Regions from separate parts of the Homo sapiens genome. Here all the other regions are linked to region 3. The links come from fine-mapping of genetic effects on gene expression. A gene starts in region 3. Each other region holds a variant in brackets. All regions are shown on one strand. Distances are from middle to middle. Region 1 overlaps LOC105376223 (a long non-coding RNA gene). Region 2 overlaps RGS3 (regulator of G protein signaling 3). Region 3 holds the start of RGS3 (regulator of G protein signaling 3).

Region 1 (8,181 bases), 220 kb after region 3:
CCTCTCTTCCTTCCTTCCTCCGTTTCCCTTCCCCTTCCCCTTCCCTTCCTTTCTTCATTCTTTCCCTGCCTTTAAGATATGGGAGGCTATAATGAACCTTGATGCCTGAGATAACACCTGAAAGCTCCCATGCTGGCCATGGGCCACCTGGGCTGGCATCCTGCTGAGACACCACACCTTTGACCACATAAACCATGTTCTGTGACCTCTCCCCATGCCCATCCCTGCTGACATGAACAGCCGGGCCCATACCTTGGGAAAGGAGGCAAACTGGAACATGGGAAGCAAAGTGAGACTGTGAGGGAAAAAGCTAGTTTACAAAAGTCCAGCTGACATCTTGGTGCTTGGGGAAGTTGTCTGCTTTCTTGATTAGACGTATGAAGGGGGTTCTTTTCCTCTGTGGACATCCTTGAGTGCTCTCATGTCCCTCAGTTCATTCCTCAGTTCACAGTATGGGGACTATGTTTGGTGTCTGGAATCTGCAAAGAGCTTGCAATCTCCAGGTGTGTTGCTCATGCAGTGGCCAGGCCAGCGGGAGAGGTGTTAAAGCACAGAGCAGGAGACTGGAGGATAAAGGAGGTGAAATCACCTACACGATGTCATCAGTTGGTGACATCACTTGGTGGAGCTAGGACTTGAAATCCAGGTCTCACTGTCCCCTCCCCCAATACCCAAGTTCTTCACTAAGGAGTGAATTGTCTTTAGGGGACTAGAAGCTCTTGATCAGTCAAGTAAGAACAAAGATTCCAGTTCCAAGAACCTCAGAAGGTTTGGGGGGCTATCAAATAAAATACCGTTTGTGACAGAATGTTGACAGCAGTCAAATGATGAGGGATGGTGTTCGCAGTAAAGCCACAGGTTCTATTCTAGGTGCTTTTCAAACATCACATTTTGCTGATAAGAAAACCGAGGCTCAGGGAGGTGAAGCCACTTACCCAGAGCCACTCACCTGGCAAAGGACCCTGGCCAGGGTCAGACTGAGACCTCCTTGGTCTGTGTTGAGAGCCGCGTTCTTTCTACTGCCACTCATGGCCTGCCCCACAGCACAGGACAGTCAAGTTGTGAGCAACTGCTATTCTTTAAAATAGTCTGGCCGGGCGCAGTGGATCACGCCTGTAATCCTAGCACTTTGGGAGGCCGAGGTGGGTGGATCACAAGGTCAGGAGATTGAGACCATCCTGGCTAACACAGTGAAACCCCGATTCTACTAAAAATACAAAAAAAAAAAAAAAAAAAATTAGCCAGGCGTGGTGGTGGTGCCTGTAGTCCCAGCTACTCGGGAGGCTGAGGCAGGAAAGAATGGCGTGAACCAGGGAGGTGGAGCTTGCAGTGAGCCAAGATCGTGCCACTGCACTCCAGCCTGGGCAACAGAACGAGACTCCGTCTCCAAAGAAAAAAAAAAAAAAGAAAGAAAAAGAAAATAGTCTATAAGTCGATCATTTGGGCATATGGACTGCCCTATCAGCCTGAAATGGGTGCTCTCGATCTCTATGACAGCCTCACATCCATCATTTTCTGGAATTTTCCACTTCTCCTTTCCCTTTTGTTCTTGCTTCCTGAAAACATAGAAACCTTATAATGAAATAAAACAACTGACTTCACCACAAACACAGCCCCTTCAACTGGCTTCTTTCTTTACTATTGTATCTTTGATTTTTAGACATTTCAGCAACCCCCAAATCATCTTAACATTTCCCCTAAACTGGAAAAATAAAAAATAAAACACTCCACTGGGGAAAGAAGGGAAATTGTATGTTCTTTTGTTTACACGAGTGTACAGAAAATCATTACAGACCTCCATGTGGCCTTGGTGATTTTCCATTGTGATATTGAAAGAGAAATGGATAAACTGGAGTTTGCAACCAATCTCGAGGGACTGCTTTTCTATTTGGGTGACCCCTGAAAGGCTTCTGAGCATATAGTTATTTTTGAAGGAAAAGAGGAAAGGCTGAGGGGTGGCCACCATTACCAAGAGTTCACCCAGATGCTAACTTATTCTGATGTTTGCTTATTTTTATTTTTATTTAATCTGATGTTTTGATGCAATTGTTCGTATTTTGTGTTTGACCTTAAACCATTATAATTCATCTTGGGCATGCCAAGAGAGGCAATTGACTATTAGTGACCAGGAAGCAGCCTATTTTCTTAAAATGTGACCCAGCCATGTTCATTGAATTGATGTAAAGCAAGGTTAATCTGAGGGAGAGGTGGGTGGCACTGCTTTGATCTTAACTCTCTTTGATCATAATTTACTTCTCTGCTGCTTGGAATAGAAACATGTTTCCTCTTGCCCAAGGTTTCCACCAAGAGGCCTTTACACTTAGGGAAGAACTTGAGCCAAGTCCTGACCCGTGGATTCTGGATGCAAAATGTACAGACTCAGAATGAAGAATTGCTATCCTAAATTCTGAGCTGCATGAATTCTAGGTATGGTAGATGGAGCACTGAATTGGGAGTTGGTTGATGTAATCCTCCCACACACTCTAGGAAGGAAGTTGTTCTTATGCCCATTTTACAGATGGAGGTACCGAGACATGGAGAGTTGAACTAACTTGCCCAACCCAGTAAGTTGAGGAGCCTTGGATTCAAGTTCAGGGAATCTCCCTTCTCCCTGCAGAGATTGGAACCTTAATGACCAAGCCTAGAGGCTCTCCAGATCTTCTGTGTGACCTTGGGCCAAACTCCTCTCCTCTCTGGGCCCTGTTTCCTCTTCTCTAAAATAAGGAGACTTGGCTGGATAATTTCCAGGCCACCCTTTCTGGCATTGACTACATACAAAATTTTGTGATGTTCCCAAAAGTCCAACAGGCAACCTGACTGTCATAGGTGATCCTGGTCAGATTTGATCTCCAGAGTCTGAAGAAAGAATTTAGCATGGATGGAGAGGAGTATTTAGCAAGTACCTGCTCTGTGTGCTACACGTTTCATGCATGTACTTCATGTTCATTCAATCGCCGCCACAATGTGATGAGGCCGGTCCTGTTATCCCCCTTTTACAGATGGGGAAACTGAAGATCAGAGTGAGGATGTGGCTTGTCCACATACCTGAGGAGTGGTGGATCCAGGATTAGCCTCCAGTACCCCATAGTACCCCCGTAAGAGCATCCCTCATCAGAGCATGCTTGGTAATCTCCTGTTTATCTAGCTGTGTCCAGTCTAGACCATGAGTTCTGAGTAGCAGGGACTGTATTTTAGGCTTTGTATCTCCAGGTGCCAGCACAAGGTCTGGCCCACAAGAGATGATCATTGAGCATTGTTGAATGAATCCATGAATGAACAGATGAATGAATGGAACACTCCAGAGCTCATGCCATCCCCTGCACTAACTGCACGGGATGGTCTCTGTGGGAAGAAAAAGAGGGGTGTGGGGAGACAGGCTCAGATGGAATCCTCAGTTATGTGACTAACGGCTTTGTCTCATTCAGTTCCTAGGCCCAGATGTCCACCCTCCTTCACGAGCTCAGAATTGAGCTCGTATCGCCAACATGTTTTGCGGAAATGCTCATATCAACACTTGGTGAACCAGGAAGACTGTACCCTCATTCCTTTCTCCTGCTGCCTGCTAGGTTGAGTTAGAAAGCTTACTCTCGAGTTTTACTGGCTTGCTTGTGCTTTTTGGCATTTTCAAAATTTTGTACAATGATCTTCAAAAAGCAAAAATACATTAATTTTTTTAAAGGTAGGATCCATATGAGATTGGATCTTCATCTTCTAACACTTTGGAGAACAGAAAAGTGGTATTTGGAGATATAATCTTCATAAGAATTGTGGCACTGAATAAAAGAGCACTGGAAGAGGAAAGAAACATAAAGGAAAGAAAGGAAAAGAAAAGACCAAAAGAAAAGCAAGGCTCCACTTGCAAATGAGAGAGCAACTTGGAAAACCTGCCACTCACTACCACTGATGCCCACAAGAGGGCGTCTCAGGGTCATCCGGAAGGCAAAACTCAAGTCCAAGATCCGCTTCCCAGCAGCTGGAAATGACCAATGAGTAGGTTCTGGAATATCAGCAATGACCCTGGCTCTCCAGCACTTTACAGTTTACATTAGACTCTCCTCCCCGACGTCATTTGCACCTCCCAAGGCCAGTTCTCCCGGTGGTTTCCAGCCCTGGGGCGTTTGTGGTTCTCTCTGCCTAGTGGGATGCAACTGGCATTTAGTGTTTGTCCGTATGTGGGTGTGGCTGGGGAGGGCAGAGAGGCAAACAGCCCCGCACAAGCTGTACAGTCCCCCTCATCAAGATGTGGCACTCCCTCTTTGCCAATAGCAACTCCTTTTTGAAACACTGGGCCTGAAGCAATCATCTTGAAGACATTTTTCATCAATCTTGTTGAAATCAACCTGGTTTTTCAAAATAGAGGAAGCACATCAATGAACAGACAGCCTTGCCCCATTTCTTCTGGGAAGAGTCACAGGAGGGCCTGCAGTGGGCAGGCAGGGACCGTGTCTTTTCTCTACCACACTGGGAAGGGAGGGAAGGGGGGCAACTTGGCTGAAACCCACAATGGGCACTTAGCATATGTTGTCACTTTTAGGGCCCACAACAACCTAGGAGGGAGATATCAATTATCCTCATTTTACAGATAGGAAGACAGAGGCTCAGAGACGTTCAGCCATCTGCCTGATGCCACCCAGCTTTTCAGAAACACATAGAATCAAG[A/AT]TTTTTTTTTTTTTGAGACTGAGTTTTGCTCTTGTTGCCCAGGCTGGAGTGCAATGGGGCGATCTCAGCTCGCTGCAACCTCCACCTCCTGGGTTCAAGCGATTCTCCTGCCTCAGCCTCCTGAGTAGCTGGGATTACAGGCGCCCACCACCACGCCCAGCTAATTTTTTTATTTTTAGTAGAGATGGGGTTTCACCATGTTGGCCAGGCTGGTCTCAAACTCCTGACCTCGTGTTCCGCCCACCTCGGCCTCCCAAAGTGCTGGGATTACAGGCGTGAGCCACCATGCCCAGCCAGAATCAAGATTTTTAACCCCAGAAAGGCCCAGGCTCCCCCAGCCCCACCACGGCTTCTATTGAGGCAGATACCAGCTTGGAGGTGGTTTTCCGAGAAGCCGTGAAAAACTGGGGTGGGCTGGGCTCAGGCTGTGACTCAGGGGGCCAAATTACCCCCTCCAGAATTCTAGCAGGCTGCGGGGAGGCCCATCTCTGGTTCAAATGTTCTGCGAGCTAGTGCATGAAATCTGTTCTTTTCCCCATTAATGCTTGCTGTACTTACACTTCTTACTATAATTACTCTGCAGTAATTAACAAGGGAAAATAACACATCTGGGTCTATACTTCGGCTCCAAACAGATGTACAAGATGCAGAGGCATGCAGAGGTCCTTTCACTTATTCGGCAAATCTGGATGGAGCATCTACTATGCACCAGCCTGCTGAACTGCAGGTGTCCCTCAGTGAGCCAGGGAGCACAGCCCCTGCTGGGCATGAAGGCGGAGTCTTTGGCAGGAGGAAGGGGAAGTGCCAAGGCCCTGGGGTAGGAATGGGTTTATCATGTTTTGAGAAGCTCCAAAGGCCAGTGTGACTGAAGCAGAATGTATGGTTAGTGCAGGTGGGAGACAGGTCAGGGAAGGGGTGGAAAAAGACCTTGGAGGGCTCTGGAAGGCACCAGAAAGCAGCTGGATGGAATGCAGTGGGAAGCCCACTGGAAGGGATGAGGCAGGGTCATGGTAGACTCTGATTTTGTCTATTTCAAAAGGGACTGGGGCTGCCCTTTATATCTGTGTGAATAATCTGTATGGGGGAGGACAAGAGAAGAAGCCAGGAGACCAGTTGGAGTGGGCATGGTAGAAGCAGAAAGGATGAATTTGGTGCATATTTTGGAGTTAATGTCCATGGGATTCACTGATGGATTGAATGTGGAGGTGGGAAATAGGAATGAAGGGACACTTGGTCAAGGTGTGACAGTGCTATAGCTGTGAGTCGCAGTCATCTGGAAATGCATTCATTCATTTATTCACTTATTTAGCAAAGACTGAAGGCCTGCTACATGCCAGGCCCTGTGCGAAGCACTGGGGATAGATCAGTGAGCGACAGCCACTGTGGTCCCTGCCCTCAGACACCACATGCAGAGTGCCAGACACGGCAGGAATGAAGCGGCAAACCGGGGGGAAGGAGGATGGAAGGTCCAGGGTCTCAAAGCTGCTAGGGTTGGGGTGGTGGGCAGGGAGGTTTCCCTGAGGAAGTGAGAGCTCCCCAGCTCCCCTGAGATCTGAACAATTGGTGGGGGAAAGGGAAAGGGTGTTCATGGAGGTATTGTGATGACCAGAGGAGGCAGCAGTGTTTTTTTATTTTTATTTTTATTTTTATATTTTTTTCTAGAGACAGGGTCCCACTCTGTCACCCAGGCTGGAGTGCAGTGGTGCCATCAGGGCTCACTGTTACCTCAAACTCCTGGGTTCAAGCAACCCTCCCACTTCACCCTCTTGAGTAGCCGGGACTACAGGCATGTACCACTGTGCCTGGCTATTTTTTTTTTCTTAAAAAAATTATTTTTCAGAGAGGGCGGTTCTTGCTATGTTGCCAAGGCTGTTCCTGAACTCCTGGTCTCAAGCTATTACAGGCATGTGCCCCATGACCAGCAGCACTGGTGTTTGAAGGGAGGCTCTAGTAGAGGCAGTGAGCGTTGTGACCTGCAAAGGAGGCTGGGGCTGTTCCACGTGGGCACAGAAGGCTCAGATACCTCCTCAGCAGTAGAAGCATCTCACAGCGGTGGAACAGGAGGACCAGCATTGATTTCCTGCATCTCAGATCCCTCTGCTTGCTGGGCAGAGACTGGATTGGAGATGACTATTGCAATAGAGAGAAGGGGACAGCCTGCAGATAGGCTTTGGGTTTCACACACAGGATTTGGTGATGGTTTGGCTGTCAGGAGGACAAGGAGAAAAGAGAGGGAGGAGTGGAGGGTGAGTCCTCTATTTCTTGCTTGAGCAACTGAGCAGTTGGAGAAACCATTTATTGAGGAAAGGAAGACTCAGGATTTTGGAGAAAAGATTAGGAACTCAAAATTTGATTGACATTTTGAGCAACAAACGAGAGTGAGGACAGAGAGAGATTCCTCAAGACTAAGGAGGGAGTCTGGGTCTGCAGATCCCATAGGTGCCTGGCTCCAGGTGGGACGGGCTGGAGTCAGCTTTTGTTTTGATTCTAGAAAAATAGTCATGCGGCGATATTTCTTGTATCTAGAGTTTCTGGAGTGAAGGTCACACCCACTGATATGGTTTGGCTGTGTCCCCACCCAAATCTCATCTTGTAGTTTCCATAATCCCCACATGTTGTGGGAGGGACCAGGTGGAGATGATTGAATCATGGAGGCTGTTTCCCCCATCCTGTTCTCGTGATAATAAGTTAGTTCTCATGAGATCTGATGGTTTCATAAGGAGCTTCCTCTTTCACTGGGCACTCAATTTTCTTCCTTCCTGCTGCCGGGTGAAGAAGGATGTGTTTGCTTCCCCTTCTGCCATGATTGTAAGTTTCCTGAGGCCTCCCCAGCCAGGCCAAACTGTGAGTCCATTGAACCTCTTTCCTTTATAAATTACCCGGTCTCGGGTATGTCTTTATTAGCAGCTTGAAAACAGACTAATACACCCACCATACACATATATATGCATAAAACACTCTGGGAGGCTCCAAACCACAACCTCTTTCTCTCTGGGCGCTGAGGGTGGAGGGTGATATTTTTCTCTTCCTTTTGTTCTTTTTGTGTTTTCTCATTCTAGATTAAACATGGATTATTTATTTTCCTGTCTCTTTCCTCTTTTCTGTCCTCATCCTTGCAAAGGAACCCAAAGTTCCAGCCATATGGGCCTGGAACTGGGGTGTCCAGGAGAAAAAAGGCCACCCTGACTCCATGGAGCACTCCTGTTGCACAGAATTCTGGGACCTGGTTTGACCAGACTTGGACAAGCCCCCACTCTGCCCCCAGCTAGGAGGGGTCCTTGAACATCTTTTCTTCAATTTGCAATTGCGTTGGAGGGCATTCCAGGTGGAGGATATGAGCAGGTTCGATACCTGCAGTCAGGAGACAGCATGGAAATTAGGGGACCTGCAGAGAAGGGATGTGGCAGGAGCAATGGATATGAGGGACAGGGCGAGTGCACTGAGGGAGACAGGAGCTAGATCCTGCAGGCTCTTCTGGGGCCCTGGACTCCCCTGAAGCAGTGGGGGGTGGTTGTTGTGGCT
Region 2 (8,181 bases), 120 kb after region 3:
TGTTGTATGACCTTGGCCTTATCACTTCCCTTCTCTGGGCCTCACGTAACAGACAGTCACCTTGCCTGTTACCTGACGCCACTCTCCAGAATTGTCTCGTCAGTCAGAAAGAAGTAAAAAGGCCTGGGCCTTACTCCTAGGGACTGTGATGCAGTAGGTCTTAGATTGGGTCCAGACAGGCATTTTTAAGATACTCCTCAGGTGATTCTAAAGTGTACTTCTCCGTTAAGAACCAATAGTCTAGGTCGGTGTTTTTCAAACTTTAATGTGCAAATGAATCTCCTGGGATCCTATTAAAGTGCAGGTTCCGATCCAGTGGGTGTGAATTGAGGTTTACGAATGTGTATTTTATGAGGTCAGGAGATCGAGACCATCCTGGCTAACATGGTGAAACCCCGTCTCTACTAAAAATACAAAAAATTAGCCGGGCGTGGTGGCAGGTGCCTGTAGTCCCAGCTACTTGGGGGGCTGAGGCAGGAGAATGGCGTGAACCCGGGAGGCGGAGCTTGCAATGAGCTGAGATCACGCCACTGCACTCCAGCCTGGGCGACAGAGCGAGACTCCATCTCAAAAAAAACAAAAACAAAAACAAAAAAATGAGTGTGTATTTTATATAAGCTCCTGGGTGATGCTGCTGCTGGCTCTTGGGCTGCACTTTGAGGCTAAGAGTCTAGATGGTCCTGTGAAGTTCACTGGATTGTTCTTTCTTTTTTTTTTTTTGAGACAGAGTCTTGCTCTGTCACCAGGCTGGAGTGCAGTGACGTGATCTTGGCTCACTGCAACCTCCGCCTCTGGGGTTCAAGCCATTCTCCTGCCTCAGCCTCCCGAGTAGCTAGGATTACAGGCGCCCACCACCACGTCCAGCTAATTTTTGTATTTTTGGTAGAGACGGGGTTTCACCATGTTGGCCAGTATGGTCTCGATCTCCTGACCTTGTGATCTGCCCTTCTTGGCCTCCCAAAGTGCTGGGATTACAGGCGTGAGCCACCGCACCCAGCGATTGTTCTTTCATTCATTTATTCATTCAAACACTTCAGGTGGGGAGTGGTCAGACGTGAGGCTACAGGGAGACAGAGCCCAGGGTCTTCCAGGGCTACAGAATTTGGACTTTATCTGAGAGGTATTGGGGAGCCAGCCACAGCAACGTTTTAAGCAGAGGAGTGACAAGTTGAGGTTTGCATGGAGGCAGCTCCCCTGACATAGCACAGAGAATGGCCAGTGGGGTCTGCACCGCCACTGTGAGCCCCACATCATCCTGGTGGGGGATGACAGTGGTCTAGAGGGAAGTGGCAGCAGTGGACATGGAGAGAGTAGAAACATTCTTTTTAAAAAAGATTAATCAACTTTTTAATTTTTTGATTTTTTACTTTTGAGACAGAGTCTCACTCTATTGCCCAGGCTGGAGTGCAGTGGTGCAATCTCGGCTCACTGCAACCTCCGCTTCCTGGATTCAAGCAATTCTCCTGCCTCAGACTCCCAAGTAGCTGGGATTACAGGTGCGCGCCATGTTGCCTGGCTAATTCTCGTATTTTTAGTAGAGACAGGGTTTTACCATATTGGCCAGGCTGGTCTCGAACTCCTGACCTGAGGTGATCCACCCGTCTTGACCTCCCAAAGTGCTGGGATTACAGGCTTGAGCCACCGTGCCTGGCCTCAACTTTTATTTTTTAGAAATTAGCTTTAGAAATTAGTGCAAAGTACAGAGAGTTCCAATATACTTTGTCCTACTTATTGCCAACCTCCCTAGTAAAAAGATCCTTGAAGTTGTATAAGTGATGATCAGGATTTGAGGATTGACCATGGGGGTGGTCACGAAGGAAAAGGAGAAAATGATGGCCAATTCCCTGGTTTGGGCAACTGGTGGTGGCTTCATTGATACAGGGACCATTAGAGGAGGAATGATGGACTTGCGGGGAGATCACACATTCAGTGTAGGGCTTGTAGAGTTGGGGGTACTGATGGGATATGCAGAAGGAGGTCTCCATCCATGTCCCTGGGATGCAGCCACACAGCTGTCCTCTGTGTCAGCAGCATGCTAAGGCTCTTCCTGGCCCGGGGCTTTGGCCTATGCTGCTTCCTCCCCTAGTGAGCCCCGCCCTGCCCCTTGAGCAGATTTCGGTCTCCAGCCATTCCACAGGGCGGCCTTCCCAACACTCCCCTGGACTCTCTCACAGCACCCGAGGGTTTTCCTTCACACTGCAGATCTTGGTTTCTGTTTATCCTGTGTTTATGGCAGTGATGACTTGGTCAATATCCCTCCTTCCTCTCTAGTTCGTAGGCTCCACAAGGACAAGGATCATGTCTTTCTTATTCCTTCCTTTATGCACAGAGCCTAGAACAGTGTCTGGATGCAGAACTATTCCATGAGGATTTGTTGAATACTTGCCTGTGGCATCTCAACTCAGGAAAGCGGTCAGGGCTGGCAGAGTGGACTGCGAGTCATCAGTGGCCAGATGGTGCAGATAGCGATTGTGGCCTGGGGAGTGGGTGGGTTCCCAAGGGAGTGGACAGGACTGTGATGAGAGGGGCCCTGCAGCAGGTCCTGATGGACAGGCAGACAGGCCCATGAGAGGGTGGAGAAGGGGTGAAATTCAGGGAGGGAGATGTTAAGGCCACGCTGTGCTGGAGTGACCATGGCTATCGTTTATTGAGTGCTCATGGGTGCCCTCATGGTGCTGAGCTCTGGATACTCATTAGCTCATTTATTCCTCTAACAACATTGTGAGGAGATTCTAGAAATCCTATGTTATGGCTAAGGAAACTGAGGCACAGAAAGGTTAAGCCAAAGGTCACCCAGCAAGTAAGTGTGAAGTTAGTATCTGGAGCTCCCCCTAATGTAAGTACCGCCTCCATCCTCCTGAATTTTGCCAAACCTGCTGTGTTGGAGACAGTGGAGGTAGAGGGGAGAGGAGTATGGCCTGGAGGGTCTCTGAGCTGGTGGCGGAGGAAGGACTGGGGGTGTCAGCCTCTGGGTGGTCAAGAGGCCAGACCTGGAGGAGCTGGGCTGACGCTGAGCCAGGAGAGCTAAGTGTTAGCTGAGCCATCAAGGTTCCTGGAAGCTAGCATTGAGTCAGGGACCTGAGGCTAGGGATCCAGAGCATGCCAAGCTTGAAGGAACAGCCCATCTTGAAAGCCTGGGGGTCCAAGGCAGGGCAGGAATTCTAACAGCCTCTCCCTTTCTCAAAGGACTTTACAGTTCACAGAGTGCCTTCCTGCCCTTTCTCACTTGGTCCCCTTAGGTCTCTGGCACAGGAAGCAGCAGGCATCCTCACCCACTTTCATGGCAGAGAAAACCAAGCTTGGAGTGGGGTAGCTTGGGATCACACAGCTAGCAAATGATGGAGTGAAGATTCCAGTCCAGGTCTTCTGGCTGCATGTCCAGTGCTCTGTCAGTAAAATCCTGGCTGTTAAGGGCCACCCTGAGACAGAGGCAAACCCCAGTTTACACCC[C/G]CCCAGTGCAGGAAGTGGTTTTCGAGGGCAGATGCAGAGCCCGGCATCCGTGGTGGCTGTGATGAATCATCGGAGTGAGAGCTGCAGGTTGTCCCTGGGTCAGCAAACCTGGCTGCTCAGTGAGTAGCTGTGTGATGTTGGACAAGTCACTTTCAGCAGCCCACCACTACCCTCAACCCAACATCCGGTGGGCATCTGGGGCCCAGGAGCCAAAGCTGGTATGAGTGTGAACTCTGGGTGTCATAGCTGCCATCCCTCCTTAGCCTATTCTGAGCTCTGGATTGGATTTGGGAGAGGATTTGATTAGGTCCTAAACAGTGACTCCATTTAGAGGGCCTGGTTCATTTCCTGTGTGCTTACAGCAGATGAGACATGGGCAGAATTAACCTGGTCCAGCCAAGCCAAAGAAGTGATGGATGGGAAAGACACAGACCCCCACCTTGGGAGGGTGGGGCAGTGGCTTCCAGCACTCTAGACCCAAGGCCCTGGGTGAGCAAGCTGGTCTTCCTGGGGCGCCCTGGCTGGATTCTTGTTACTTCAGCTGTTGCAACAGCTGTCTCACTGGGTCCCCAGCTGCCTGTACTTCCTCTATCAGAGCAGTCCCCATGCTCCTTCAAACTAGTTGTCTAACCTCTGTTTTTTCTACTTAACTGAGGGCAGAGATTGTGTCTGACTTGTTCCCTGCCGTCCTCCTAGTACCTACCTCAGTGCTTGGAGAATGCATGAATGTATGCGTGCCCCAGTCCTCCCTGCCATCCACACATCCTGCCCACATTCCCCAGAGCAGCTTTGACACAGCACAGCTCTGCCTGTGGCATTTCGTTGCTCACAGGGCAAATCCCATGCCCACCATGTGTTCTGCAACCTCCCCCTCATCTTTGCCTCCCCTCCTGCCCTAATTTTCTCCTACACTTGCCACCCTCCCACCCCTGGGTTTCTCGGGTTTCCTATAATTGCTCCGGAGCTCCCGTCAAACCACTTCCCACCCCAGCTCTCCCAAGAACAGGGGCCTTACCAAACCTGCACGCAGTCCCTGTTCATACAGACCTGCCTGGGAGCACAGAAAGAACCATGAGCTCTGGGCCCTGTTCGCCAGCATCTGCTGATGTGGGATGCACCCAGGTGCGGGGCCTCAGGCAGCACTCCAGGCTGTTCCTCCTCCTTCTACAGCCCTCTGAGGTCCCCAAACACTTGTGTGTAAGGCTCCAAGGAAACAGGGAGAGACCCTGGGCAGGAGATATGAGTTCTAATCCTGCATCAGCCTCTCATTCTTAGGTAATTCCTTTACCCTCTGGGACCCCAGGTTTCTTATCTCTAAAATAAGACCACTGATAGCTCCCATTGTATCAAAAGCTTTTCCAGGGCCAGGCACTGTGAGGAGACTCAAATAGTCCTGTGAGTCCAGTATGATATCACTGGGCTCAATTCCAGATGAGGAAACGGAGGCTCTGAGGTGTTGAGAGGCTTGGCCAGAGTTGCACAGCTAAAAAGTGGCCCCATTGGGATCAAAATCAGCCTGGCTCGGGTATCTGAGCACATAACCACTGGGCCCTCTGAGAACCCTTCCATCTTGGTTAGTTTCTCGGCTGATCTCTCTGGGTAGGTGCCCTCTGGGGGCAGTACCCCTGCCTGAGTGGCACTTCCCCTCCTGGCTTTGTTTGGTTTGGCCTCGATTTAGAACAGGGTTGGCAGAGGCAGGCTGACTTGCATTTCTGGTTTTGGGTTTGTTGCTGCACTTTCCCCAAGGGGTGGGCGGGCTCTGACTGACAGTCACCACTGGGACAGGCCTGGGCCCCACCCTCACCACCCAGGAAAGGGGAAATGCGGCCCGCTCCCCACTCAGTGCCACTCTGTGCCACTCCGTGCCAGGCCCTGAGGGCACCCGGTTGCTGCTTCCTTCCGTCTTTCCCCAAGGACTATCAGAGGCAGGTGGCTGGGCCAGGGGGTGGGTCGGGGGGAGGTCTGGCCATGTGGTAGGGTGATAGGACTGAGGGGCCCCAGGGAGCTGGCTGCAGGGCAGTTTGTTTCTCCTGATGGAGAATGCTCCCTGGTGGGTGGGGCGATGGGCTGGGGACTGGTTTGTTCATGGGGACAGAGATCAGAAGTGGGCTTGAGAAGAACAGGGCCAGAAGGCCTGGACTCTGGCCCCAGCCTAGCCCCTAATTTGTGCAGGGTGGCTTTGGGCAAGTCACTAAGTCACTGTCTAGACTGGGCCCTCAGCCTTCCTGTCTACCCAATGGAGGGTCTTTCTGTCCACCTGGGAACAGCCTGATAGGACTGAAGCACAGCCCTTAGTTTCCAGATGAGAATTCTGGACTGGAGGCCCTGACATTACAATTGCCAACACTGACTCTGGTGTTTGGCAAAATTTGGTGTATGTGGGAAACACGTGCCTCTGGTTGAGGTCCTTAACTTCAGAATTTCCCTCTAGATCAATGCTTTTTAAAGCACTAACTCCAACACCACCATCTTCTGTAGGAGCTTTCGAGCTTTCCAGCTTTTCCAGCATACGCTCCTGATCTGTTACTCAGGCATGCTGGTTATCCCATTTCATACGTGGACACCTTGAGGCCTAAAGGTTGGTGACTGGCTCTACCTGACACCTCTGTGTGATTCTAGGTTGCCCCTTGCTCCTCTCTGGGCCTCAGCCTTTCTGTCTATGCAGTGGGGATTTCGGATCGCTGTTGTTTCAGAGTCTGAGGCTATGAGGTCTGAGAGGGCCCTTGTGTGGAGTCACCTCTGAGCTGCAGGCAGGATTTCCAGGGCAAGAAGGCCACAGCATCAGCAGGCACCTGTCTTTGGCCTGTGAGCCATAGCCTAAGGCGTGCCCTTCCCGACCTTGGCCAGATCACGCTAGAGTCCTCCAAGGCCTCCCCTCCCTTGCCCAGCCACCTTCTCTGCTCTGCAGGGCTCCACTTTCACTTTCACACTCCCAGGCTGTGGCTCTTACCCGTGCCGAGCTTTCACATCCGCTCACATCTGTGCTCCCAGATGCCAGCGTGACCCCTGACACGTGTGTGCAGCAGCCTGCAGCTGCCCCAAGCCATGGCTGAACACTGACTCCCAGCTGTGGGGCTTCACCATTACAGACTCCCCAGGGCTTCAAAGACTTCTCAGCTTCGAGCATGGCTTTTGGCTGTCAGGGCAGCTGTACAATAGTGGGTAAGTCACCGGCCTTTGGGCTCAGTTTTCTCATCCATCAAATGGACATTAATGATTTCTACAATGAGAGCTCTTAACCCATGTTCTGGGGGTACTTACCCCTGAAGTTTTCTGCCAGTGTGCGCGTGTGCCCGCAGGTGCACACATTCCCAAGCATCTGTTCAGTTCCCGAGTATGGGTGAGGTCTTTCCCTTTCATTAGTTCTCAGCAGCTATGGCTTCTTGAAGACAGAACCTGGGCTCTAAATAAATAGTTCCAGCTCCGGCATTCCTGGTCCTTGACTGGGAGGGGCCCACCCCAGACTTGAGAACTGCCTCCCTGTGTGGTTGTGGCACCATGGACACTCCTGACTTTCTCGGGGCCCCAATCTTCTGGTGACATAGCTGCTATTCAGACTTTCATTAAGAGAAATGTTTTTCTCTTTGCACATGAAATCTACTGTCGAAACTCAGCAAAACCCCCTAGGATCCCGAGGGTTGTGTGTGAGGCAGGAGATGCTGTGTTTTTTGAGGAATCCCTGAGCTTCCTCCAAGCAGTTTAAAAATCCCTGGGTGGGTGATTCTTCAGGGAGGTTCCGTGTGTCTGCGACATCTGGTGAGTCCAGGTGTGGACAATATTTTAAAGTTCCGGTTTCATTCCAGTTTAATAGTTTCAAAAAGATACTTAAGCGTTCAGAGCACATTCTTGTTTGAATGACTCATTAGGATTTTTTAAACTTGAGTTCAGGTAGAAGACACCCTGGGCTGGGTTCAGTGACTGCCCTGGCTTGGTTCTGGTCCATAAGCAGAGACTGCCTGGTTCTCCTTTATCCCCAGAGGCAACTTTGACCCTGTTTCCTTTTCTGTAAAATGGGGACAGTGATGCTTCTTTTATAGGGTTGTCGGGAAGGCCACATAAGAGAGTGGGGTCAAGCTGGCCTGGCACCTGCCAAAGCAGGAGCTAGATAGATAGTGGTTATCTCTCCCTCTTCTCCTATAAATGACCAGCTGTGTTTTTGATGGAGCAGAAAGTTCAAGCAAGAAGACAGGGTGAGAATTGTTACCCAGCTAAGTCAAAGGGGCTTTGGGGGTTCCATCTGGCACCTCAGCTTTCAGACTGGGGGCCCGGGGTTCAGGCCACTGCCTGATTTCATGTCAGCTCATGCATGGTGTCTGGCATCTTGGAGCCTCCTCTTCTGAACTGTTCTTGTTTTCTTTTTGTTTCCCAGATGTTTGAGACGGAGGCAGATGAGAAGAGGGAGATGGCCTTGGAGGAAGGGAAGGGGCCTGGTGCCGAGGATTCCCCACCCAGCAAGGAGCCCTCTCCTGGCCAGGAGCTTCCTCCAGGACAAGACCTTCCACCCAACAAGGACTCCCCTTCTGGGCAGGAACCCGCTCCCAGCCAAGAACCACTGTCCAGCAAAGACTCAGCTACCTCTGAAGGATCCCCTCCAGGCCCAGATGCTCCGCCCAGCAAGGATGTGCCACCATGCCAGGAACCCCCTCCAGCCCAAGACCTCTCACCCTGCCAGGACCTACCTGCTGGTCAAGAACCCCTGCCTCACCAGGACCCTCTACTCACCAAAGACCT
Region 3 (8,181 bases):
GCGAGATTCTGTTTCAAAAAAAATAAAAAAAAAGAGGCCGGGCTCAGTGGCTCACACCTGTAGTCCCAGCACTTTGGGAGGCTGAGGTGGGCAGATCACCTGAGGTCAGGAGTTTGAGACCAGCCTGGCTAACATGGTGAAACCACCTTTCTACTAAAAATACAAAAAATTAGCCGGGCATGGTAGTGTACACCTGTAATCTCAGCTACTCGGAAGGCTGAGGCAGGAGAATTGCTTGAACCTTGGGAGGCGGAGGTTGCAGTGAGCAGAGATCGCACCACTGCACTCCAGCCTGGGCAACAAGAGAGAAACTCTCTCAAAAAAAAAAAAAAAAATCACCTGTATATCTTGGCTTTCTCTTCCCTAAACTTGCTTATTTCTGGTTTTCTGTATACATTTTGCCAGAGGTCTATTTTACTGAACTTTTCAGAGACAAGGCTTTGGTCTTATTGTTGAAGTTTATTTTTTTGAGGATAAATTTCACCTTTAACCTTATTTCCTTTTAAAATTTTCTCCTGGCCAGGCGCAGTGGCTCATGCCTGTAATCCCAGCACTTTGGGAGGTTGAGATGGGCAGATCGCAAGGTCAGGAGATCGAGACCATCCTGGCTAACAGGTAAAACCCCGTCTCTACTAAAAATACAAAAAATTAGCCGGGCGTGTTGGCGGGTGCCTGTAGTCCCAGCTACTCGGGGGGTGCTGAGGCAGGAGAATGGCGTGAACCCAGGAGGTGGAGCTTTCAGTGAGCCGAGATTGCGCCACTGCACTCCAGCCTGAGTGACAGAGTGAGACTCCGTCTCCAAAAAAAAAAAAATTTTTTTTTCTTCTGAATTAGCTTATTCCTCTTCTAACTTTTTGAAATGAATTTTTAGTTAAAACACTTTAAATCTTTGTTATTTTCTAAATAAATTATCCCCTTGAACTTTCTACTCTAATTCCATCGATCTGTCTTTTCTTTTTAGTTTTATATTATTTAACACCATTTAACATCTGGTAGTACAAGTTCCCTTTGTTATTATTTTTCTAAGTTTTCTTGGTTATTATTGGGCTAGATGATATCTTAAAGTCACTAAGATTCTTTGAGAGTTATTGTGAAAATGCACCCAAATAAATCCATTTAGTCCCTTCTTTTCAAACTCAAGTATTCCTTATTATTCCAGATATAGTCAGTCTTTAAAAAAATGCCTAAAATCATTGCTCGATACTTTATTAAGTGCTTCAAATCAATCTGTATATATGCATATGGTATATATGTAGTGTATGTGTTTTGTGTGCATGTGTCAGTGTGATGTGTGCTTATATATATGCATAGGATGCATATATAATGTGTGGGGTGTGTTTGTATATGTATGTGAGGTGTGTATGTAGTGTGTTTATGTATGTGTATATGTGCATATGATGTGACTGTGTGTGTACATGGGATATGTTGAGGTATGTGTATGTATGTGTGCAGAGTGTATGATTGTTATCGTGTGTGGTATGATAATGTATGTGTGGAGTGTGTGTGCACATGTGTGAGGTGGAAGAACCCCAGGGGGTGCTAGAATGCTCAGGACATGTGAGAAAGCCAGGCTTGGTCCAACTCTCCTGCCTTCTTGGGGAAAGCAGGGCCATGATCATGAGCCTTTCTGGATGTTGCTTTTGGACAGCAGTGTGGGTTAATAGGGCCAGTCTCTCCTGAAGTGCCCTGCCCAAGCTCCCACTCACCTCTCTCCTCCATCTCTTGAGGAAAGGGTGACCGACCTGTCCTTTTAGGAAAAGGAAGCTTCCAGCACGCTACTGAGTAAAGGAGCCTTACTGGTGGTGGTGAAGGTGATACCATCAGAGGGGCCAGCTCAGGATCAGGCTGGCCTTGCAATCTTCCAACTGAATATGTTAGCTGCAGAGTGGGGCAGGAGTCAGGAGGGGACCTACAAAGCAGTAGAATCTTTGTTCCCATTACCGGGTGTAAGTGCCCAGTGTGGGCCTCGGTCTTTTCTCTCCTAGGTCACATTCAGACAGCACACCTTTGCCCAATTTTCTTTCTGGATCTCACCGTCCTGAGTGTTGTACCTGCAGGTTGCTCACAGCCTCTGGAGCCCAAGATAGTCTCCCCTTTGGGAGGAGGCTCTACAGTGGTCCCTGGCGAAGTTGTGAAGAGGTGACTATCATCTCAGGCACATCACCTTCCCTTTTCCCTGTGGGCCTTCCTTTGCTGTTTCCTGAACACCATGCTTTCTAGTTCCTACTGGGAGTGAACACACCTTGCATGGAGCATCTTCAGGCCATGGCTAACTCATGCTCCCATCTTGCTCCTGCAGGTCTGCCACGTCTCTGTGCTCAGTGTCCTCTCTACATCCTGTGGCTTGAGCCTGAGCTTGCCCATATTCCCTGGCTGGATGGAGTGGCTAAGCCCTGATATCGCTCTGCCCAGAAGAGATGAGTGGACTCAAACTTCTCCAGCCAGGAAGAGGATCACGCATGCCAAAGTCCAGGGTGCAGGTAAGTCCATCTGTCACTGGCTTGAGGCTAGGAGAGTGGACCTGCTCTTGTTAAAGGCAGTGTTCACCATGTGTGTGTGTAACCGGGGTTGGAGGGGGAGAGTGGGGTGGGGTGGGGGGGTGCAGTAAAGAGCAGGGCAGGACTTCACGAAGTGCCAGGATTCAAACAATCCTACGGCATTTATGTGATTTATCACCAGTTTGCTGATTCAGGGCTCCTTCTGCAGTTTCTGCTCCTCGCTGGTGGCCACCTGACCCTGTGGCGTTTGCTCCTTCCACCTGCTGTTGGCCATGGGGCAGATGTGGAGGCCAAGGAAGAATAGGACAATGGCGTTTGGGGCAGACAGGCCTGGGTTCAAATTTCAGCTCTGCCTATTCCTAGCTCTGCAAACCTTGGGCATGTCACCTGTCTTCTCTGCCTGAGGTTCAGATTTCTTCCTGGTAAATTGGGGCTAATACTTATTAGACTTACCGTGAAGATTAACTGAGATGATGTGTGTAAATTGCCCAGCTCAGCTCAGCCTCTGGCATCTGGTACTCAACACATAACTCTTCTCTCCACTTTCTGTCTTGCATCTCCCCATCTTGTTTTTGAGTGGATCACTGAACCACAAATATCCACTTGGCGATGAAGTCTGGGGAACAGGGACAAATACCAACACTTCCCATTTTTAGATTTACACGAGACTAACAGCTTTCCTTCCCACAGTGGCAACAGAGATTTGCAGAGCAGATGTCTTGGTGTGAAACTGCTACGAGGAGGTGTCCTGTAAATGTTTGCTGACAAAGCAGCAAAGCAGGGTTTGACCTTCCAGCTCTGCCTCCCCGCACCAGGCTGGGGGATTCACCCACCCCACTCCGTTTCCTGTGCGTTCCTCTTTCTCAGAGGCTGTGGGCCTGTCCTGCTGTCCGATGGCATCAGGCTGTGGGACGGGGGGCCATCAGGTTGGTTGGAGCAAGCTGCTCCCATCCGGACCTGTGTCAGGCAGCACTTGTTCAAGAGGAGGCTCAAGAGAGTGATCCAGGATGCAGGGTTTGGGAAGAGGATGCAGCATGGTGGGGGGCGACCTGTCCAAGCGCAGAGAACACTTTTCCAAACCTCACTGCCCTGGGCCATCGGGTGCTCCTTTGCCTTTGCTTGGATCTAATGATTATAGGCCTGAGCTTCAAAGCAGGTTATAAACCCGACTAATTGCTGGTCTAGGAGAGCTGGACGAGGAGGCCAAGCCTGCCCAGAGTGGGCACCCCGGACTGGGCCTTCTCGTGGGACTGGCATTTCCAACCGGGAGCGCGGTGCTGGGGCCGGGATACCCGGGGTGGCCGCACCGTCCTGCTGGCTCCTTGGGTGGCTGCCGTCGCTGCTCAGCGCGGGTCGGCGGCGCCGCCTCCCCCACCCCGGCCCAGCTCTGCTCCGGCAGGTGGAACTCTCCCCATTCAAACCCGCGCGGGCCAATCAGGGCCGGGCGCGCCCTGGCCGTTCCAACGCTTGGGGCAGCCCTACCTCCCGCTCGCGCTCCTCCCGCCCTGGAGACTCCGGTTACTGGGGAGCAACACAGCCGCCTCGGGTTGCAGACGCTCCTGTCCGGGTCGCAGTGGGACGCCATGGAGCGCTCCCTGCACCGCGTCTCCCTCGGGAGCCGGCGTGCCCACCCGGACTTGTCCTTCTACCTCACCACCTTTGGTAAGTGCCCGCTGGGGCTGGCGGCAGGGGCTGCTTCACCCTGCTCCCAGCGCCCAGAAACGCAGCCCCTCGTGGTGACAGGGGAGGCTGGGAGCAGGTGCTCTTTCTATCTAGGGGCACCTTCTCTGGCCCCTTTCTCCTGTGACTGCCCAGGAGGGGCTCAGGGCACAGGCTCAGTCCAAGCAAGCTGCTGGACACCACCTGCTGCCCGGCCATGAGTGCCAACTGCGGTTGGTTCTGCCTCACTTGGCTGGAATAATCACGCTCTGGTTAATCTTTCAGAGACCTGGGTTGTCACCACGGAGTTTCTCATTAGCAAGCAGCTCAGGTTAAATCAAGGTCTTGTTATAGCAACTGGAGATCTCATTCACCCACTTTCCTTTGGCTCAGGGAGCGGACAGGTGCTGGGCCCTTTGGCCCTGCTGCCTTGTGGGGAGGCTGCAATTTGACTTTGTTGGGTATCTGAGCCACAGTGGAGATGGGAGAATTCTCTCCTCCAAGAAAGAACAATCCCTTAGGAGGGTCCCAGGGCTGCCTCAGGGTTTGAGGTGGAAAGAAGTGAACAGTAGGCTTCACTCCCAAGCCCCTAAGTAGCAGACTGAGTTCCCCCAAATAACAGCTGGGCGGCAGCTGCCCAAAGGTCTGGGCAAACCTGGCCTTCCTGGTAGCCATAGTAAAGGTAACAACCCTACCCTTGAGGGTAACCCTTCATTTCCTCACTGGTCCTGCAACTCTCTGTGGAGAGGGGTTATTTTTCCTCTGTGAAGACTTGAAACCAAGAGATCTTCCATGAGCCAGTGGCAGAGTTCGTAGCTGAGCTCAAGCTTTCCAGAGATGACCTGTCCAGCGCATTTTTGTTTGAACTTGCATACAATTTCCTTCTAAAGGTTGGGGCTGTTACTGAAACATTACTGGACATTGCCCAGCTTTCAAAGACAGAGTGCCCAAGGAGTTTGGTCCCTCCCTGGGGTTCCTGGCTCTTCTGTTTTCAGGCTTACTCCTGCTCAACATATTTGGTTTTCCACAACCTGCTTTTTTTCCTTAGGGGTAGAGGGAATGATGGAAGAGCAGTGGCTTGGCCTCTGAAATTGCCTGACGTCTGGCAGCAGGAATTCACTGGTCTAGTTGGTGGACGATAAAGGGCAATTAACTAGCCATCATTTGTTGAGAACTTACCATTGCCATTCCTTATGCCAAGTGTTTTACCTGCATTATCTCACTTAATGCCCCAGCGTAGGAGGCAATTCCTGCTAACCCCATTGGGATGCAGGGCTCTGTGAGACAAGGGTGGTTTCCAGGATGATCTGTATTGGCTGGGGTAGGAGTGATCAGGAAAGGGTGTCAGGGAGCTGTGAGGCCCTCTTACCTTAGCTGTGTCCTGATTAAAAAGTAAAAATATGTTTGCTTTTTTCCTCCTTATTATCATGGTTACATGTGTTTACTGCTGAAAACTTAGTGAAAAGAAGAAAGTGAAAATCACTTGTAATCTGACTTCCCAGGGAGACCACTGTTAACTTTCTGATTTATATCCTCCCAGGCTTATTTCCACACCTATTTCTGTGTGTGTGTGTGTGTGTGTGTGTGTGTGTGTGTGTGTGTGCCTGTGTGTATTTAGGGGTCAAATTTCAACACAATTGAGATCAAGTTTGTATGGACAATTTTGTAACCCATATGTTTTCCTTAGTGGCCTGATGTGAATATTTCCTTGCATTGGTCCATGTTCTTCTATTAGATTAATCTGCCTGCCAGATCTGGGAAGCTGAGGAGGGTTCAGGCCCAGCAGGGAGTGGATCTTCCTGCCCAGCCATGGCCTCAGGGCTGAGTCTGATGGGTATCAGGGAAGGCTGCTGCTTGAACAAGTGACTGTGACCTGAGTGTGCAGGAGGCAGACAGGAGCCTGGGTGGGGTGGGAAGCCACCTGCTCTTATTCGTGCAGGCTCCTCTCACATCTCTCTAAGGATGCTTATGAGAGCATTTGAGAAATTCTCTCCTGTTTCCTGCACTGGCTCTGTTTCCCTGGGTGCCATTTGTCGTGGTGCCCCTCTTTCAGGCTGCTGATTTTCTTTATCCACTGTGATCTTCACTGATCTGCTTATGAGCAAAGATTCCTATCAGTGGTTTCCAAACCCAGCCAAATATCAGAAGCATGTGGGGAGCCTGTTAAAAATACACAGATTCCTAGAATCTTCTTCTGGAGACTCTAGTTTAATAGGTCTGGGGTGGAGCCTGAGAATATGAACACTTAAGAAGCCATAGAGCGTTCAGACTGTCATCCAGGTTTGGAAGCTATGGATTCAGAGTCAGTTTTGGTAGCAATTGGGACCACTTTTACTGTGAAGGTTTTGGCTAAGTTTTTCTCAGTTCACTGGCCTTTCCTTAGCAAAGTAGGTAGCCCCTGGCCTTCTACTGTGAGCTTTGCCTTGGTAGAACCAGATGAAGATGTTGCTTAGCTGGTAGTTTCCTGAGCACAGACATGTAAAGGGAGCATAATCATCTATGGAAATATAAAGAGACAAAACTGTTTTGATGAGAATTCCCTTCGGGGAGAGTACTGCATGATATATGTATTTGTGTGTACACATGAACACAACCCCTTGTCCCCCAAAAGGAGTATGTTCAAGTGACATTAATTGAAGGACACTGCGTTCTGAGGAGGTGGCCTTACTTCAGGGGAAGGGAGTAGGCAAGCTGAGGCTAGGACCCAACTACTCTAGAGGGATTTTTTTTTCTTTATTGTGAAAAATGATGTAATTTGAAGTCATTGTAGGTATACATAATATTTTTCTCCAGGATTGTATATTTTATTTTGATTAGGATATTTGCTGATTTTTCTTGTAACAGCTTTATTGAAATATAATTCAGATATATACAATTCACTCATTTAAACCATACAATTCAATGGTTTTTAGTATATTCACAGAGATGTGTAACTATTATCACAATTTCAGAACATTTTCATTCCCTCAAAAAGAGACATTATGCTCTTTAGCTTGTACCGTCCTCCCTTGTCCCGAGCCCAAAGCAATTGCTAATCTATTCTCTCCCTCTGTAGATTTGCCTGTTCTGGACATTTCATATAAATGGAATCGTATTTTTTTTTTTATGACTGACTTCTTTCACTTAGCATAATGTTTTCAAGTTTAATCCATGTTGTAGCAGATATCATACTCCATTCATTTTTATGGCTGAGTAGTATTCATTGTATGGCTATACCACATTTTAAAAATTTATTCATCTGGTGATGAATATTTTGGCTGTTTCTCCCTTTTGACTATTATGAATAATACTGCCATGAACATTTGTGAACAAGTTTTTGTGTGGACAAATGTTTTCATTTCTCTTCATATACACACAGTATATACCTAGGAGTAGATTTGCTGAGTCCTATGGTAACTCTGTGTTTAACTATTTAGGGAACTACCAAACTCTTTTCCAAAGTAGGTGTATCATTTTATGTTCCCATCAGCTGTGTATATGGGTTTTGGTTTTTCCACATTCCTTACCAACACTTGTTATTATCTGACTTTTTAATTCTAGCTATCCTAGTGGGTGTGAATTGATATTCACTATAGTTTCGATTTGCATTTTCCTGATGACCCGTGATGTTGAACATTTTTTCATGTGCTCATTATTTATATATCTTCTTTGGAGAAGAATGTATTCAGATCTTTTGTTCATTTTAAAATTGGGCTTTTTGTCTTGTTATTATTGAGTTGTAAGATTTCTTTATATATTCTAGATGCAAGCTCCTTAACCGATATATGATTTGCAAATATTTTCTCTCTATCTGTGGGTTTTTTTCACTTTCTTGATAGTGTTCATTGAATCCCAAACTTTTTTTGGGGATGGGGTCTTGTTTTGTTGCCCAGGCTGGAGTTCAGTGGCATGATCATGGCTCCTCTTTGACCATGCAGCCTCAACCTCCTGTGCTTAAGCGATCCTCCCACTTCAGCCTCCTGAGTAGCTGGTACTACAGATGTGCACCACCATGCCTGGCTAATTTTTCTTATGTAAAAAAAAC

What was found. PIP is the estimated chance that this variant, and not a neighbour inherited with it, causes the effect.
Region 1: its variant is fine-mapped to the expression of RGS3 in whole blood (INTERVAL, PIP above 0.99).
Region 2: its variant is fine-mapped to the expression of RGS3 in whole blood (INTERVAL, PIP above 0.99).

The regions. Positions count from the first base shown.
Region 1 is chr9:113,678,481-113,686,661 of GRCh38, forward strand. It overlaps LOC105376223 (a long non-coding RNA gene), which reads left to right. Exons shown (of 3, transcript XR_930254.3): 3 at 3,426-7,737. Among named protein-coding and RNA genes, the nearest start is that of ZNF618, 190 kb to the right of the region's middle. The variant A/AT (reference allele first, on the strand shown) is at 4,660.
Region 2 is chr9:113,575,631-113,583,811 of GRCh38, forward strand. It overlaps RGS3 (regulator of G protein signaling 3), which reads left to right. Exons shown (of 23, transcript NM_001394167.1): 18 at 7,820-8,181. Among named protein-coding and RNA genes, the nearest start is that of RGS3, 120 kb to the left of the region's middle. RefSeq lists enhancers at 3,491-3,580, 6,062-6,111, 6,272-6,441, 6,339-6,847. The variant C/G (reference allele first, on the strand shown) is at 3,451.
Region 3 is chr9:113,459,722-113,467,902 of GRCh38, forward strand. RGS3 (regulator of G protein signaling 3) reads left to right here and starts at 4,006. Exons shown (of 23, transcript NM_001394167.1): 1 at 4,006-4,160. The coding sequence starts at 4,082. RefSeq lists enhancers at 2,909-3,863, 3,864-4,818.